2 linked regions of the Homo sapiens genome follow. The protein of the gene in region 2 interacts with the protein of the main gene of each other region in a pairwise test. Each region holds a gene or a part of one and is shown on either strand. Other genes may lie near its edges. The genes, in order: CCS and CZIB.

The links.
Region 1: the proteins of CZIB (region 2) and CCS interact in binary tests that used the Homo sapiens proteins (3 or more experiments, as listed by UniProt).

The regions. Positions count from the first base shown.
Region 1 is NC_000011.10:66,603,145-66,606,765, reverse strand, and holds the end of CCS (copper chaperone for superoxide dismutase), read right to left. Parts: intron 1,428-3,621; coding exon 1,350-1,427; intron 1,278-1,349; coding exon 1,174-1,277; intron 1,065-1,173; coding exon 911-1,064; 3' UTR 747-910; downstream 1-746. UniProt on the Homo sapiens protein: Delivers copper to copper zinc superoxide dismutase (SOD1).
Region 2 is NC_000001.11:53,217,538-53,225,808, forward strand, and holds the start of CZIB (CXXC motif containing zinc binding protein), read right to left. Parts: upstream 3,098-8,271; 5' UTR 3,039-3,097; coding exon 3,033-3,038; exon of another isoform or gene 2,823-3,032; intron 2,808-2,822; coding exon 2,724-2,807; exon of another isoform or gene 2,264-2,723; intron 1,387-2,263; coding exon 1,330-1,386; intron 959-1,329; coding exon 877-958; intron 667-876; coding exon 635-666; intron 1-634.

The sequences.
Region 1 (3,621 bases), on a different chromosome or scaffold from region 2:
CCCAAATAGCTGGGACCACAAGCATGCACCATCACACCCAGCTAATTAAATTTTTTTTTTTTGTAGAGACAGGGTCTTACTCTGTTCCCCCAGCTGGTCTCAAACTCCTGGGCTCAAGAGATCCTCCCGCCTTGGCCTTCCGAAGTGCTGGGATTACAGGTGTGAGCTACCGTGCCCAGCCTCAAGCCAGATTATTTTAACAGGGGGATGCATTAGGAGGATTCGGGAGCATCTCTTCAATCCCAGGCAGGAGGCAGCTGGCCTCACGAAAGGCTCAGAGAGGGGACTCCAGAGTGACTGGGATTCTCCAGCAACTCTTAGATTCTCCCTGCCTCATTTTTCCTCCTTAGCCGACTGGCTTTTTCTGATGCTCAGTCAATAAGGCAGGGAGAAGAGGGCCACCAAAACTTCCCATATTCCCATGTTATGGGTCCAACCACAGGAAAAAACTAAAGCTGGATCTGCCCTGATTTCTCAGGGAAAGCATGGGCCACCATGGGTCAGGTGTCCATTTTGGTTCCAATCAGCCATAGTGAGGGGTTGGGGGAGGCCACAAACAGAAATTTGACTGTAGTGGCTCTTCATTATGGCTCCAAGGAGGAAGATGGGGACTTCAGTGTGTGTGTAGGTTTGAATTCAGGTTTGTTTGGCTCCAATGCTAAGGGGTGGCCCTGATACAAAGGAAAGAAGCAGAGCTATGTTCACCAAGCCCATAAGGGGCATGGAGACAAGCACAAAACACCAAGTCCCAAACGAAAATAAAACTTTCATTTGCCAAGGGAACACCACAGCAGCTCCTGCCCTGTACTGAGCTCTCCAAAGACTGGGCAGGCAAAGTCCCTCTGGCCCCCTCTGGAAGTGGAAAGTGCTCGCCCTGGAGGACAGCAACAGAGCCAAGGTGAGGTCCTGCTCAAAGGTGGGCAGGGGGCTGCGCTGACTCCTTTCGGCCCTTGCCAGCGATGGGCCGGCCTCGCTCCTCCCAGATGGTGAGGCCATCGCAAGAGCAGATCTGCTTGGGGTTCTGGAAAAGGCCAGCGGAGCGTGCAATGATGCCACAGGCCAACCTGCAGAAGAATGTGTGGTCAGGGGTGGGTACCTGTTTGGCCCCCACCCCTGGGTTCCTCATGCACCATCCGCAGAGCACAGCCTCCTACAGGGGCCGACACCACTCACCTCTCCCCGGAGTTCCCTGTGATCTTGGATAAGGGATGGCCTCCCCGGCCCAGGTCATCTTCTCCCTCATCAATAATCAGGCTGCGGCCAATCACATCCCACACCTTTGAGGGGAGACGACAGCTTCAGATGATGGACCCTGTTAGGAAGGGTGCCCACCTTCTTTTCCACCTTACCTTCAGCTGCTCATCCTCCATTCTGAAGATGGCGCGGCCGTCAGCATCAGCACGGACATTGCCCAGGTCTCCGCGGTGCTGGAATGAGATCCAGTGTGTGTATAGGGGATGTGTGCCACGTGGTGCCAAGCTGCTATCTTCTGATTTCCTGATTCCGACGCCTCTTCCTGCTTCCCTAAAGTACCCATTTCCTCCTGTGGGTACCAGTCTCGTAGGATCTGAGCTCCCCAAGGACTGGGCAGGCAAGGTCCTCTTGGCCCTGTCTGGAAGTGGAAAGTGGTCCAGGAAGTCCCGGACCATCTGAACACTCCCTCCCTGGAACTGAAATCCTGGGCAGGATGACAGTGGGCTGAAAAGAGCCAGTGGAAGTTTCCCCTGCCTGTGCAGTCATTCCCATTGGATCAGACTGTTTTTCCGGCGAGGCAATTGCCCAGCTCTGCTTCTCAGCCTCCAGTTAGCTCAGTTGTGCAGCCTCCTGATGGCTCTGTGAGCCCTTGGCTGTCTTCAATTCCTATAGGCTTAAGTTGGCCAAGCTTGGCTTCCCTGACCATCATAGGCAGCCAGTGTCATTTCCCTGACTCCCAGATTCCAGGAACAGAAGGAAATGCAAGGGGCAAAGGGCCTGTCCTAGCCCCTCGAAGCTGGCTCTGCCCTCCTTCTCCTTTGACGGTAATAAAAATTGTCATAACACACCTATGAGCACCTCCTAGGTCAGACACACTACCCAACATGGCAGGGAGTATGCAGGTCACCATCCTCAAGGGACTCAGAACATGGTGGGGGCCCAGATACAGAACAGACTAGGGGTGATGACACACAGGGTGAATACAACAGTTGGTGTGTTTTGGGGTGACAAGGCCTTACTAGTGAGCCACAGAAACCCACATCTGTGCAAATAAATTGTCCCCAACCTGACATTTTGGGCAGAAACAAGTGCCTGTGCCAGTACAGGTGGGCTCCCATGACCTTGCTGCTGAGTAACCAGGCATCTCACTGTGCCACCAACTGATGGGCAGGAAGAAGTGGCAGTTCTGCTTTATCTCGTTTTCCAGAGGGATATCTGCTGCCTGCACCTGGTACTTTTTTTTACGCCCTGCGTTGGAGATTTGAACAGTAGAAAGATCAAGAAGGGGGAGGGGATACAGAGCCCTGAAGAGCGGTTTTTTTTGCTTGTTTTGTTTTGTTTTGATACAAAGTCTCATTGCAATGCCCAGGCTGGAATGCAATGGTGTGATCTCGGCTCACTGCAGTCTCTGCTTCCCGGGTTCAAGCAATTCTCCTGCCTCAGCCTCCTAAGTAGCTGAGATTACAGGCACGCGCCACTACGCCTGGCTAGTTTTTGTATTTCTTTTAATTAATTAATTTATTTATTTATTTATTTATTTATTGAGACAGAGTCTCACTCTGTTGCCCAGGCTGGAGTGCAGTGGTGCGATCTGGGCTCACTGCAACCTCCCCACCCCCCAGGTTCAAGCAATTCTCCTGTCTCAGCTTCCCGAGTAGCTGTGACTACAGAGCACGCCACCATACCTGGCCAACTTTTGTTTTGTTTTGTTTTGTTTTGTTTTGTTGAGATGGAGTCTTGCTCTGTCGCCCAGGCTGGAGTGCAGTGGCGCGACCTCGGCTCACTGCAAGCTCCGCCTCCCAGGTTCACGCTATTCTCCTGCCTCAACCTCCCAAGTAGCTGGGACTACAGGCGCCCGCCACCACGCCTGGCTAATTTTTTGTATTTTTAGTAGAGACGGGGTTTCACAATGTTAACCAGGATGGTCTCGATCTCCTGACCTTGTGATCTGCCCGCCTCGGCCTCCCAAAGTGCTGGGATTACAGGCATGAGCCACTGTGCCCGGCCCAACTTTTGTATTTTTAATAGAGACAGGGTTTCACCATGTTGGTCAAGCTGATCTCAAACTCCTGACCTCAAGTGACCCATCCGCCTCAGCCTCCCAAAGTGCTGGGATTACAGGCATGAGCCATTGCACCTGGCCTAATTTTTGTATTTTTAGTAGAGACAGGGTTTCACCATATTGGCCAGCCTGGTCTCGAACTCCTGAACTCAAGTGATCCGTCTGCCTCGGCCTCCCAAAGTGCTAGGGTTGCAGGCGTGAGCCACTGTGCCCGGCTGGAGGAGCGGCCTCAAGGCAGGGGGCAGCCTGGACAGTGTGGCTGGAGGCATGACCCAGCAGGAGTTCAGGGAAAGGCAGCCTTTCCAGGCTGTTTCCTCAGCACACAGGCAGGGGCAATAGGCAGGGGGAGTGGGGTATTGAATGTC
Region 2 (8,271 bases):
TGACCACATCTCTGGCACTGGTAAGGCACTTCTCTGTTAGGGCCCTAGTTCGATTCTTGTTTTTTGTATTTTCCACTAGATTATTATGTACGTGAAGGCGAGTCCTCATTTAATTTCTCTTTAACTTCAGGACAAAGCCAAGAATTTGGCACAACTCAAGATACTTTAAATAAATACCAAATAAGGAATAGGTGAATACATATAACTGGCTTTCTTTAAACAAACAGATCCAAAGCACACCCTCCCTCACCTTTGGGCTAACTTGTTAACACTGATGATATAAAGGATGGGATGCACCAAACGACTACCCCACCCATGGTTTCAGAGAAAGCTTGCTAGTCCCCTAAAATGAAGACAAGGCAAGTGCTCTCAGTGATGCAAACTGAACAGCTAGGTTGTGTCAGAGGTCCCCTGAGCTCTCACAGCCCAGCCCTCATAAGAAGGCACTGCAAGAGGCAATATACCAAGCACTCAGTGTACAGTGGATAAATGACTGAGTCAAAGAAGAACTAAGTTCATGAGTGAATGTCCTATGGCAGGTCACTCTGATGCAGGCATGACTCTAGAACCCAGACCTACTAACTCCAGTTAGGATTTAAGCCCACCATCCCTGCCACTACAGCAGCAAACTTACATTGTAAGGCTTGATGGTGCTGCTTAAAATCTCTGAAATAGAAAAGAGAACACAAAGTTGACTTGAGTCCATACCCTCGCCCCAGCCAGGTGCCCACATGTGGCCCTGAAAAAGATCACGCTGTACAGGTGTCGGCATCTTAGGCCTGACTCCACCCTCAGGTAACATGAGTCTACTTTCAGCCTGGTGCCAGGAAGCTGTGGGCCACCCTGGCAGAACTCAGTACGCACAGCCTGACCTACCGATGGAATTTTCTCTTGCACACAGCTTGCACTTCTGGACCATGGAAGCACTGCCACGGCCCCCCTTCAGTGCCACACTGTCCTGGCAAAAAGCAAACAGAACTTTCAGTCACATATGAATTAGATGTACAGTCCTGAGGAGATCGAGCCCACCATTTATTGTCCACTTAAAGAGACCAAGACCCAGAAAGGGTAACTTACTAGGACAAGACTCCTGGGAAGGCTTCCTGAGGAAAATAAAAAAAGGGCTTCCCCTTGATTTTGAACTCTGCCTCATACCTCAAAGATGCCTATTGAATCCAGTGCTGATCACACTGACACCTACCCTCCCAAACCACAAAAAGCAGGGAGCAAAGAACTGGAGAGATGAAGGCCAGTTTCCCCAAATCCCTGCCCAGAAGTGTATGTGTGTTTGTGAGTGTTTATGTTGGGGGTTGGGCGGGGAACAGTTACCATCAGCCGGATGTACTGCCACTTGTCCGAAATCTCACCACAGTTGCCACATTTCATCTTTGGGGAAAAAGAATGTTAGTAAAGCAGCTGGCTCTGCTGCACAGACACCAAGGAAAGGGTAAGAACAGTGGGAGGTGGGCAGGCTCATGATCTACCTTCTTGATGGCAATCTCACTTCATCCCTAACACCTGCCCCAACAAGGACAAAACTAGAACTATCTCTGGGCAAAGGATAGGTAAGGCTGTTTCCTATGCCGGCGTGCCCACCCTCCTCTATGAAGTGCTCAGTGTGGCCGGGGATTCAAGGCACCTGTGGTGCAGAAATGGTTTCAGCGGAGGTGAGGGGGGGGAATATGGAGAGATTTGTTAGAAGATACAAAATTACAGCTATATGGGAGGAATAAGTTCTAGTGTTCTATAGCACTGTAGGATGACTATAGCTGACAATAATATATAGTTTCAAATAGCTAGGATATTAAATGCTCCCAACACAAAGAAATGATACACGTTTGAGGTGAATATGCTAACTACCTTGATCTGATCACAATACATTACATTTATCGGAACATCACTATATACCCCATAAATATGTACAATTCTGTGTCAATTAAGAAAAAAAAAGAGAAATGGCCTCAGCAGGCCCCCGACCCACTCTGCTTGGTTAGCTTTATGTTCCCACAGGCCCTGTATGTCACTGGTATAAGCACTTATCACTCTATTGTTACTCTATTTTTCTGTCTCCTTCACTCGATTCCGCTTCTTCAAGCCAAAGAACAGATTCTCCCAAGTAAGCCCTGGTATTCAGGCTTCAAAATCCTGGGAAACAAAAGTAGTCCGGAGGCAGCTTCCCGAAAAACAGGGCTTTTGAGAGGTACAGAAGGATGCTGGGATTTTTGACCAGGAGTAAAACAGAGCAGAAGCTCTGGGATCTGGAAGAGTGAAGAGCCTCGAACTGCTGGGGAAGGGGAGGCCTCTGTAGACCATGCCACTAGGGTACCAGCTTTACCAGTGTGGGAGGGCTAAGGAAGGGTGGATTACGCACAAAATTAAACTATTTCACAATAAAGAAAACCAAATCAATAAACGAAAGGCGAACTATTCACCTTATTAAATAATCACAAGCGTCCCTTCAAGTAGCATTTCGTTTAGTGTCCATTTACAGACCACGAAATATTTAACACAGGGAAGAACTACAAAATGAAGCTTTCCAAGACTGCCAATTAGAGATAAACCAATACACTTTAATAGAAAGCAAACGTAAAATTCTAACTAGGAAAACCCCGAACACTTAATGTGCCTGGTTAAATATTTTCTCATACTGCCGGAGAGAAGGCTCCGGTTCAGCACTGAGATCAGGACGGGCCTCCTCTCCCCGGGCCCCGCCCCGGCCGCACCTTCAGGTACCACCGGAAGTCCTCGCCCACGGGCCGGAGGTTGGTGATGTTCTCCAGCGTGGCTTTGAGTTGCAGCGCGATTTTCTGAGGGGGAGGGCCAGAGCGACTGCGTCAGCCGTGCCTGCGCAGCCCCACGCCTGCCCGACCCTCCCGCATTCCCAGCCGTGGGTGCCACAGGGAGACACTCCTTCTGCCTCCTGCTCCTTCAGCGCGCACCCACTCGCTTCATCTCCTCCTGGCGCGAGCTGTTGCCTCCCAGACCCTCGCCACCTCCCCTCCGTGTCCCCGCGGCGGGCGGCCTCCCCTCACCCCCATGGTAGCCCTCTCCGCCCGGTGCTGGCTGCGGCCCTTGCCGTTGCTTTCCGGCGCGTCGTAAAAGGCGGGTGCCGTCTGCGCACCCTCAGTAGGGCGGGGCCGGGGCCGGGCCGCGGGGCAGGGACTTCTGCGCGCCGCTGCTCGCCTGGCCCACTGGGCTTTTCGCATCTGGGGATCTGGGGCCAGTGGAGGTCAGCCAGGTCCGCGAGCAACCTGTGCTCAGGCCAGCGGAAGCCTGACTCCAGGATTCGGTGGTGCCACAGACAGTTACTGAACGCCAATTTTGTGCCTGCTTTAAGCGAACAGGACAGTTCCTGACCCTCAGTTCTTTCCAGGCTCTTCACTACTCTGCCTGCCCTGGAACTTCTCAGATCACGTCAGCTCCCTCTGCCCAGGGGAAAAGCTACAAAAGGAAGAGTTCCAAGACTGCCAAATAAAGATAAACCAATACGCTTTAAAAAGTAGAATGTATTGGTTTATCAGATTTGGGGATGATGCCTTTCTTCAAACTGCCCTTTCCTGTTTCACCCAAGAGACCTGGTTTCTAGGCCCTTCTCCAGAGTTTGCCCTGTGTCCACATCCTTCTCACTGTGGTCCTTGCGACTGGACATTCCCCTTCAGCTGGCTCTTTTTTGGGAGCCCACCTGGCTTATCCTTCTCTCATAACGTTTATTGAACTTTATTTTACCTGGCCTCCTGTCCAGGCTACATCTGAGACCATGCAGGAGCTGTGGAGATTAACGGTAAAAGGAACAGCACATTCAAGACTCTTCTAGGAGGTGGGGCAAGATAGCCAAATAGAACCCTCCAGTGATCCTCCTCCTCCTCTTCCCTGGCAGGAACACCAAACTGAACAACTATCCACACAAGAAAGCACCTTCATGAGAACCAAAACTCAGGTAGCAATCACAGTAGCTGGTTGTAACGTCACATCAAGATATAAGGCAATGGCTGGGTGCGGTGGCTCACACCTGTAATCCCAGTGCTTTGGGAGGCTGAGGCGGGCAGACCACCTGAGGTCAGGAGTTTGAGACCTAGCTGGCCAACATAGTGAAACCCTGTCTCTACTAAAAATACAAAAATCAGCCGAGTATGGCAGTGCACACCTGTAGTCCCAGCTACTCCGGAGGCTAAGGCAGGAGAATTGTTTGAACCCGGGAGGTGGAGGTTGTAGTGAGCTGAGATCATGCCATTGCACTCTAGCCTGGGTGACAGAGTGAGACTCTATCTCATAAAAGAAGAAAAAAAAAGGAACAAGGCAATGAAGAGGGTAGGAAAGACAGTCTTGAATTGCTACCACCACCCCTCCCTCATCCTCTGGCAGCACCTGGCTGCCTGGCATAGAGAGAGAATCTGTGTGCTTATGGGACTTTGCATTGGAACTGAGTTTTGCCCTGTCACAGTGGAAAGCAACTCAGGGCAGAATTCAGCTAGTGCCCACAGAGGAAGCACTTAGAGAAACCCTAGCCAGAGGGGAATCATCCATCCCAGTGGTCAGGTTCTGGCGAGCCCCACCACCACTGGCTAAAGTGCTTCAGGGTCCTAAATAAATTCGAAAGGCAGTCTAGGCCACAAAGACTGCAATTCCTGGGCAAGTCCTGGTGCTGTGCTGAGCTCAGAGCCCGTGGACTTGGGGTGCACACAGCCTAGTGAGATACCAGTTGGGGAGCCAAAGGAGTGTTTATGTCACCAGTCCCCCAACCCCAGGCAGCACAGCTCACGGCTCCAGGAGAGACTCCTTTCCCTTAGAGGAAAGGAGAGGGGAAAGTAAAGAGGACTTTGTCTTACAGCTTGGATACCATCCCAGCCACAGTAGAATAAAACACCACGCAGAGTCCCGAAGCCCCCTTGCCAGGCTCTATCTCCCAGATATTTCTAGAGCTACCATGGGCCAGAAGGGAACCCGCTGCTTTGAAGGAAAGGACCCAGTCCTGGCAGGATTCATCACCTGCTGACTAAAGAGCTGTTGGGCCTTGAATAAACATTTGTAATAGCCACAGTACTGGGTGAGGCCCAGTACTGTGCTGCCTTCAGGTGTGACCCAGTGCCTTCCCAGTAATGGTTGCCACAGGGAGAGACTCCTTCTGCTTAAGGAAAAGAGAGGAAAGAGTTAAAAAGGAGTTGGTCTTGCAACTTGGGTACCAGCTCAGCCACAGTAAAATAAAGCACCAAGTAGGTTTCTAAAGCCCGGACTCCATGCCCTAGCTCCTGGACAGCATTTCTAAACCCACCCTGGGCCAGAAGGGAACCTGCCACCCCAAAGGGTAAGACACAAGCCTGGCTGGATTCACCACCTGCTGACTAAAGAGCCTTTGGGCTTTGAATAAACATCAGCAATAACCAGGCAATAGTCACCATGGGCCTTGGGCAAGACCCACTACTGTGCTGGCTTCAGGTTTGACACAGCACAGTTCCAGCAGTGGTGGCCACAGGGGTGCTTGTGTCACTCCTCTCCCAACTCCAGGCAGCTCAGCATGGAGAGAGAGACTCCATTTATTTGGGAGAAAGTAAGGGAAGATAACAAGAGACTCTGCCTGGTAATCCAGGGAATTCTCTCGGATCTTACCCAAGACCATCAAGGCAGTACCTCTGAGTCTACAAGAGTCACAGCATCGCTGGGTTTGGGGTGCCCCCTAATGCAGTTACAGCTGCAGTGACCAAATATTTACATCACAACACTCATTTCCCTTTGAGTACTTGGAAAAGCCTTCTGAAGAAGGATGAGTACAAATAAGCCCAAACTGTGAAAATTATGATAAATACCTAATTATTCAATGCTCTGCATTGACCAACAGTCACAAACATCAATACCATCCAAGAAAACATGACCTAATCAAATGAACTAAATAAGGCACCAGTGACCAATCCCAGAGTGACAGAGATATGTGACCTTTCAGAGAATTCACTGTCACTGAGAAAGCTCAGTGAAATTCAAGATAGCACAGAGAAGGAACTCAGAATCCTGCCAGATAAACTTAACAAAGAGATGGAAAAAGGAACTCAGAATCCTGCCAGATAAATTTGACAAAGAGATGGAAATAATTTTAAAAATTAAATAGAAATTCTGGAGCTGATAAATTCAACTGATACACCAAAGAATGCACCAGGGTCTCTAAACATGAGAACTGATCAAGCAGAAGAAAGAATTAGTGAGCTTGAAGGCAGGCTGTTTGAAAATACACAGAAGAATTGAAAGAAAAAATAACAAAAAAGGATGAAGTATGCCTACAATATCTAGACAATGGCCACAAATGGGCAAATCTAAGAGTTATTGGCCTTAAAGAGAAGGTAGAGAGAAATTAGGATAGAAAGTTTATTCAAAGGAAGAATAACGGAACTTTCCAAACCTAGAGAAATATATAAATATTCAAGTACAAGAAAGTTATAGAATACCAAGCAGATTTAACCCAAATAAGACTACCTCATGTCATTTAATAATCAGACTCCCAAAGATCAAAGATAAAGAAAGGATCCTAAAAGCAGCAAGAAAAAAGAAACAAATAACACACAAAGAAGCTCCAATGGGTCTGGCAGCAGGCTTCTCTGTGGAAAGCTTACAGGCCAGGAGAGTGGCATGACATTTAAAGTACTGAAGAAAAAAAACATTTATCCTAGAATAGTATATCCAGCAAAAATGTCCTTTAAACATGAAGGAAAAATAAAGATTTCCTAGACAAACAAAAGCTGAGGGATTTTGTCAACACACCAGACCTTTCCTTCAAGAAATGCTAAAGAGTGTTTTTCAGTCTGAAAGAAAAGGATGTTAAGCAATGAGAAATCGTCTGACGGCACAAAACTCATTGGGAATGGTAACTACACAGACAAATGCAAAAGATTTTAACACTAATTGTGTGTAAACTACTCATATATTGAGTAGCAAGACTAAAAGATGAACCTATCAAAAATAATAACTTTTCAAAACATAGACAGTATAAGATATAAATAGGGGCCAGGCACGGTGGCTTATGCCCATAATCCCAGCACTTTGGGAGGCCGAGGCAGGTGGATCGCTTGAGCTCAGGAGTTCAGGGGCAACATGGTGAAACCACATCTCTACTAAAAATACAAAAAATTAGCCAGGCATGGTGGCATATGCCTATGGTCCCAGCTTTTCGGGAGCCTGAGATGGGAGGATCGCTTGAGCCTGGGAGGCGGAGGTTGCAATCAGCCAAGATCACACCACTAAACTCCAGCCTGGGTGACAGGGCAAGACCCTGTCTCAAAAAAAAAAAAAAAAAAAAATATATATATATATATAGATAGATAGACAGACAGACAGACAGACAGACAGACAGATAGGCTGGGCACAGTGGCTCACACCTGTAATTCTAGCACTTTGGGAGGCTGAGGTAGGACGACGGCTTCAGCACAGGAGTTTGAGACCAGCCAAACCCTGTTTTTTTCTTTTGTTTTTTTTTTTTTTTTTTGAGATGGAGTTTCATTCTTGTTGCCCAGGCTGGAGTGCAATGGCATGATCTCGGCTCACCGCAACCTCTGCCTCCCAGATTCAAGTGATTCTCCTGTCTCAGCCTCTCGAGTAGCTGAGATTACAGGCATGCACCACCATGCCAGGCTAATTTTGTATTTTTAGTAGAGATGGGGTTTCTCCATGTTGGTCAGGCTGGTCTCAAACTCCTGACCTCAGGTGATCCGCCTGCCTCGGCCTCCCAAAGTGCTGGGATTACAGGCGTGAGCCACCATGCCCGGTCTCTTTTTATTTTTTATTTTTTGAGATGGAGTTTTGCTTTTGTCGCCCAGGCTTGAGTGCAGTGGCGAAATCTCGGCTCACGGCAACCTCCAACTCCTGGGTTCGAGCGATTCTCCTGCCTCCGCCTCTCGAGTAGTTGGGATTACAGGCGTGCGCCACCACAGTCGACTAATTTTTTATTTTTAGTACAGATGAGGTTTCACCAGGTTGGCCAGGATGGTCTCGAACTCCTGACCTCAGGTGATCCACCCACCTCAGACTCCCAAAGTACTGGGATTACAGGGTGAGCCATTGCACCCGGCCAAGAATACTTTACTAAAGTTTTTTTTGCCTCAGAAAACAAAAGACTCTTTTATCACCTGAGGTCCCGTCACTTCTTTAAAGTTTAGAGTGACTTTTTTTGATGTCTACTTTACTACCAACTTGCTTCATTGCCCCAAGTACTCTTATAGGGGGAGGTGCACTGGAGTCAGGAACCCTGACATCTCAGTGCTGTTCTTAACTTGCCCCATAGTCTTTGAAGGA